Linked DNA regions of Homo sapiens. The protein of the gene in region 2 purifies or fractionates together with the protein of the main gene of each other region. This does not show direct contact. Each region holds a gene or a part of one and is shown on either strand. Other genes may lie near its edges. The genes, in order: GLG1 and FOLH1.

What was found.
Region 1: the proteins of FOLH1 (region 2) and GLG1 purify together in Homo sapiens (affinity purification with mass spectrometry; one large-scale study listed by BioGRID and IntAct). This does not show direct contact.

The regions. Positions count from the first base shown.
Region 1 is NC_000016.10:74,491,912-74,495,742, forward strand, and holds part of GLG1 (Golgi apparatus protein 1 isoform 3 precursor), read right to left. Parts: intron 2,921-3,831; coding exon 2,849-2,920; intron 1,230-2,848; coding exon 1,046-1,229; intron 1-1,045. UniProt on the Homo sapiens protein: Binds fibroblast growth factor and E-selectin (cell-adhesion lectin on endothelial cells mediating the binding of neutrophils).
Region 2 is NC_000011.10:49,147,051-49,149,886, reverse strand, and holds part of FOLH1 (glutamate carboxypeptidase 2), read left to right. Parts: intron 1-1,155; coding exon 1,156-1,248; intron 1,249-2,836. UniProt on the Homo sapiens protein: Has both folate hydrolase and N-acetylated-alpha-linked-acidic dipeptidase (NAALADase) activity. Has a preference for tri-alpha-glutamate peptides. In the intestine, required for the uptake of folate.

The DNA.
Region 1 (3,831 bases), on a different chromosome or scaffold from region 2:
CCACCGCGCCTGGCCAGGAAAACTTAAAACAAAAAGATTAAAACAAAACAAAACAAAACAAAAACAGGTCACCCAGACGGTTTGTTTAGTGATAAAGCCAAAATTTGAAGCCAAGTCTGACCCATGTGCTAAATCATGCTACCCTGAGTCTCCTCAAAATGTTGCACAATGTGTATTTCAAAAATGAAAACTAGGCCAGGCGCAGTGGCTCACGCCTGTAATCCCAGCACTTTGGGAGGCCGAGGCAGGCAGATCACGAGGTCAGGAGATCGAGACTATCATGGCCAACATGGTGAAATCCCATCTCTACTAAAAATACAAAAATTAGCTGGGCATAGTGGTGCGTGCCTGTAATCCAAGCTATTCCAGAGGCTGAACTAGGGAGTCGGAGGTAGCAGTGAGCTGAGATTGTGCCACTGCACTACAGCCTGGTGACAAAGCGAGACTCTGTCTCAAAAAAAAAAAAAAGAAAAGACAAGAAAACTATTCAGCTGGGCACAGTGGCTCACGCCTGTAATCCTAGCACTCTGGGAGCTAAGGTGGGAGGATCACGTGAGGGCAGGAGTTTTGAGACCCGGGATGCCAACGTGGCAAAACCTCATCTCTATTAAAAAAAAAAAAAAATTGCTAGGTGCGGTGGCTCACACCTATAATCCAAGCACTTTGAGAGGCCAAGGTGGGCGGATCACCTAAGTTTGGGAGTTCGAGACCAGCCTGACCAACATGGTGAAACCCCATCTCTACTAAAAATACAAGAATTAGCCAGGCGCAGTGGCACTCGCCTGTAATCCCAGCTACTTGGGAGGCTGAGGCAGGAGAATGGCGTGAACACGGAAGGCGGAGCTTGCAGTGAGCCGAGATTGCGCCACTGCCCTCCAGCCTGGGCGACAGAGCGAGAGACTCCGTCTCAAGAAAAAAAAAAAAAAAAGAAAAATACTCAAAGAAGCAAATATGGGAGGAAACTAACGTTTATATATATAAAGCTTTAGAGTGTGAATCCAAAAAGGAACAGAAATGATAATTAAAAAAAAAATATGAATGCTACCTCTGTGTACAGCTGACTCCAGGCACATTAACAAGTAGGAGAGCCTGGCTTCACGCGATCGCGGAAGGTTTTCCACATTGCACCGGTATTTCTTCAAGTCACTTTTACAGGATTTGGCCAATGAATAACTGACTTTATAATCCTGGGCAATCAGCTTTTGGCGGGTTGTAAGTGCTTCTCGACACTGAGGAAAGAGTACAGCAACAGCCGTGAGACCACTCATGTAACTTTACTGTTGACGTGTACCACTAAGATGAGCACAGCGACTCAGCCAAGTACATGTCAACAACTGCAGTTATTACCAACATATCTATCTTTAAGTTTGGTTAAAATGTTCACAATTGAGCTAAACTAGTGTGGCATGAGACAGGGGTAAGTGGGTGGGGAACCTAGAAATTCTGTAGTCACTTGCTAGTTGTTGCTGCAATAGCAGCTATCCAAAACATGTAAATATCTCACAGATCCCAATATGTTAACTTGACACACAGCATTCTTTTCCACTTTAACAATACCCCGAACATAAATTTCACTAGCATCAAACTGGCAACTAACATAACATTTGGGATATTCTGTTCAATGCTTTAAAATACAATTATTCAATTATTCTATATCATCTGAATAATAAGATTTGAATAAGATTGTTCAAATGATACAAGAAAAAGGAAATGAGAAACATTTCTTCAGCTACACAGGAAAGTAAATGACAAGATAGCAAAATTAATTATTTCAAAAGCCATCAACTATTCTTGCATTCATTCAGGGACAAAGAACTAAAAGAGGATGCTTAATGATATAGCTGCTGAAAAATTAAATAGCTAATTGCCTAGAAAGCACATTGATTTGGTTAACCTAAACTTCTTGAGGAGGCAGGGCTGGCCTTAGTGTGGTTTTATATAAAATTCTCTGATTTTACTCCCCAAACAAAGTAATATCTGAGAATTTTATATAAAATCACACTGAGGATTTTATATAAAACCACAGTGAGAGGCGGGTGGATCACCTGAGGTCAGGAGTTTGAGAGCAGCTTGGCCAACATGGTGAAACCCCGTCTCTACTAAAAATACAAAAATTAGCTGGGCGTGTTGTCAGGTGCCTGTAGTCATAGCTACTAGGGAGGCTGAGGCAGGAGACTTGCTTGAACCCGGCAGGCAGAGGCTACAGTGAGCCGAATCATGCCACTGCACCCCAGCCTGGGTGACAGAGAAAGACTCCACTCAAAAAAAAACAAAAACAAAACAAAACAAAAACACCTAAAAAAACCACCACAGTGAGAACCCTACTTGGCTTCTCACTATCTAGATATCACAATCAGGGTTTCATTTTCTTGGTTTCAGCCAAATATGCTTAAAACCCAAGTACCTCACCTCTGAAAGCGGTGAGCTTTATCAGTCATTTACGTTTCGGTATAAGATTATAAGAAATATTGTTTCAGAGAAATTGAGAAAGCTTTTTTTTTTTTTTTTTTTTTGAGACAGAGTCTCACTCTGTCACCCAGGCTGGAGTGCAGTGGTGCGATCTCAGCTCACTGCAACCTCCACCTCCTGGGTTCAAGTGATTTTCCTGCTTCAGCCTCCCGAGTAGCTGGGATTACAGGCGCCCACCACCACGGCCGACTAATTTTTGTATTTTTAGTAGAGACGGCGTTTCACCATCTTGGCCAGGCTGGTCTTGAACTCCTGACCTCGTGATCCACCTGCCTCAGCCTCCCAAAGTGCTGGGATTACAGGCGTGAGCCACCGTGTCTGGCTGAGAAAGCTTTTAAAAAACAAATAAAACATTCATTAGTTTCAAAATAATACTTACCTTTTCACTCATGGATTCTTCAAATTTATGGTTAAAGAGGCACTTATACACTCTGCCCTCACCAGCTTGTGTCTATAAGATGGAACATACACATTATTATTACTTTAGCTAAATAGTTATGCTGAACATTATCCACAATCTCATATAGAGCTTTCTATTAAACGATTATAATCGTACATACCTTTGGACAAACAGCGCTTCCATTTATAAAATTTAATAGGCTTTTAACAAAAACAGTGACTGCAGTAAAGACGAAAAAAATATTCCCATGATATTTGGAGTTTGTCATTTGTTCTCAGATGTATTTTGTTAATTAGGGAACCAAGAGAAGTGTTAGAGTCTGAGTCTTTTTTTTTTTTTTTTTTTTTGAGATAGAGTCAGTCTTGCTCTGTTGCCCAGGCTGGAGTGCAGTGGCACAATCTTAGCTCGGTGCAACCTCTGCCTCCTGGGTTCAAGCAATTCTCCTGCCTCAGAGCCCCAAGTAGCTGGGATTACAGGCCCCCGCCACCCTGCCCAACTAATTTTTTTATTTTTAGTAGAGATGGGGTTTCACCATATTGGTCAGGCTGGTCTCGAACTCCTGACCTCAAGTGATCTGCCTGCCTCGGCCTCCCAAAGTGCTGGGATTACAGGCGTGAGCCGCCGCACCCAGCCTCTGAGTCTTCTTTCTTACAAGTGTATGCTAGAGTTAACGAAACTCTTACATCAGTGGCTCTGATGGTTAAAGCTGTTAATGCAAACCAGCAGGCAGAGTGGAAGTGTACACAAGTTACTTTCAGTACTTTGTTGTAAGGATGGAGAGACCATTCTATTTAAAGACTTAGAAGGCTGTTCTGTAGAGTCAGCAGGTGGTAATCAAGGATTTGGTTTTAAAGATTAGCCACCTGCTGTTTTCTTCACCTTAGCCAAAAACACATAAATATATAATGCGTCAAAGTTTTAGCCATTGAATAGATGTAAATAAGATCCTGGGTAAAATAAAA
Region 2 (2,836 bases):
AAACTTTTTATTTTGCCAAATTAAATCTTTTATTTTCAAGCTTACATTTGAAAATGTTAGCATTGCATACATAAAATGATTTCATTAAAAATATCTAAAAGTAGGATGGACATAAATCTAGAACAAAAGTATTTTAACTGAGAAAATTCATTTATGTGGAAAAAATCTCAACAAGCATCTTTCTTTTAGCTTTGATATATTAGAACTTTTATCACAGAATGATGCTCACTCTACAAGCTTGAATCTGAGAAACTCAGATGTAGCTAATGAAAAACTAATGAAAAATATAAAGTAAGAGAATTATAGAAACTTAAAAAAAAACTGTTACATTCCATTTGGACTACTAGCCATGTGTTCCACAAACATTTTCTATTTTATATAATTGCCTATCTCATTGTCTTAACAACATGAAGACTAAGATGTGAAAGGGGGATTAAGCATGTGGTAAGAGTTATACTGGGGGCAGCTAACCCAAGGGAGATCAGATGTGGCTTCAGATTCCACATACACAGCTACATTTCCTCACTGAGGCAGAGCAAGTTAATCCAGAAAGTCATATCAGGCTCCAAGAACGCTGTACTTAAACCATTCTGAAAATCACTTGAAACGATATAATTTTAAGTAACTTTTAGACTTAAATCTGGATCATTATACCGAGAGATCAATTTAATTTGTTTGGTAGTTTGTTCATTTTCACCCTGTTAATTCCACAGAGGACTCGTCATTTACATTAGGTATACCTCCCAATGCTATCCTTCCCCCCTCACCCCACCCCACGACAGGCCCTGGTGTGTGATGTTCCCCACCCTGTGTCCAAGTGTTCTCATTGTTCAATTCCCACCTATGAGTGAGATAACGGGTGCAGCACACCAACATGGCACATGTATACATGTGTAACAAACCTGCACGTTGTGCACATGTACCCTCGAACTTAAAAGTATAATAATAAAAAAAAATTCCACAAAGGAGGAGGGCCGACTTTTCACATACATGTGTCCTCCTTGCAGGACTTGAGTATGCACAAATTTTGGTGTAGAGGGTGGTCCTGAAACCAATCCCCGGAGATAACTAAATTCAGTTTTGTTCTGAAATTTTTATTTTCTGAGTAGAAACATATTTTCATGAAGTTATAATTATATTCATTTTCTTTCTCAGCCCAATAGTATTAAGAATGATGAATGATCAACTCATGTTTCTGGAAAGAGCATTTATTGATCCATTAGGGTTACCAGACAGGCCTTTTTATAGGTAAGAAAAGAAAATATGACTCCTTTCTGTAATATCACTTTTTCTTCTAATTATTTTTATTTTTTTCACTGTGGAAAAAATATTGTAGTTGATTTCTTGCAAGCAAATAGAAAATTTCAAAATATATGTAGTAAGTGATAGTTGTATTGTTTCTTCATATAATGTAATATGATTTTTGCATATCTTTATTTTGAGTATCTTTGTTCTGATTATAAAAGAATATAAATTTATTTTAGAAAATATAGAAGATCCAGAAAGCCATGACAAAAAATAAAAATCTCCCCAATTTTATCAGAAAAATATAAAATCATTGTTATATTCTGGTGTGTATAATTTTAGCTCCTTTTCTATTTTAAATATATTTTTACTTATGTATACACAGAACCCAAACATCTCTCTATATATAATGTATATAATAAATATATATTTATTTATTCTTTTCCCTAATGTTGATATTTAGATATTTTATTTCCTCCTAAATCCTGACAGTTGGATTTTTTTCTGCCAAACATTGACTGTCCCCAGGTTGATCTTCTAAATATTGCAGAATGAGATAGATCATTGGACAGCCAGAAATGGCCCTAACTTTCTTTCTAGGGATTATCAAAGGGTCGGGCTTGGGAGTAAGAGCATCTTCCAAGCAGGTTGACTGGATCAGATCACCAGTAGCAGCATATTTTTATCCATCCCCCACCCCCCCTTTTTTTCCTAAGAGACAGGGTCCCACTCTGTCTCCCAGGCTAGAGTTCAGTTGTGCAATTTTAGCTCACTGCAGCCTCAGACTTTTGGGCTCAACCAATCTTCCTGCAGCAGCCTCCAAAGAAGCTAGGACTACAGTCACATGCCACCATGCCCAGCTAATATTTGTACGTTCATTTGTAGCGACAGGGTGTCCCTATGTTGCGCAGGCTCGTCTAGAACTCCTGGCCTCAAGCAATCCTCCCACCTTGGCCTCCCTAATATATGGGATTACAGGCATGAGCTACTGCTTCTGGCCTTATTTACATCTTTACTATGGAGTTTGTCCTTCTCTTCTGTGGGCTATTACATGAACTGTCATAGCCCATTCTATAAAACATTTTCTGCCTTGGTCACATGGAACATTACAAAATTGTTTTTGATGATTCTTCAAACTCTATATTAAGTATTCTAACATGGTAGTGTGACTTTTTAAAAAAAGACAAAAAAAAAACCACAATAGAGGGTTGGCTGATCACAAGCAAGACTGTAATGATTACAATTGTGCTATAATATAGGGGGTAGCATGATATATTAAAAAATCAGCAGTTACTTGTCGTGTGCCTTGAGACAAATCATTTAGTTACTTGATCTCTCAGACCTCAGTTTCCTTCTCTGTGAAATACTAATATCAACTGTGTAGAGTTTATTTCTAAACATCAGAAAAATTGCAAGTAAACATTAAATACCAAGAATGATTGCTGTGGTTACTATCATCATTGTTAGTTTTGTAGCACTGAACCACTTTAATTTATTTGTTTGAAATAAAAATATAATTAATTACTATAGATTTCATATAATAGTCTTCAGAGATGATTGAACTTGGAAGTTCAGTTGACAAGTGGCTTGT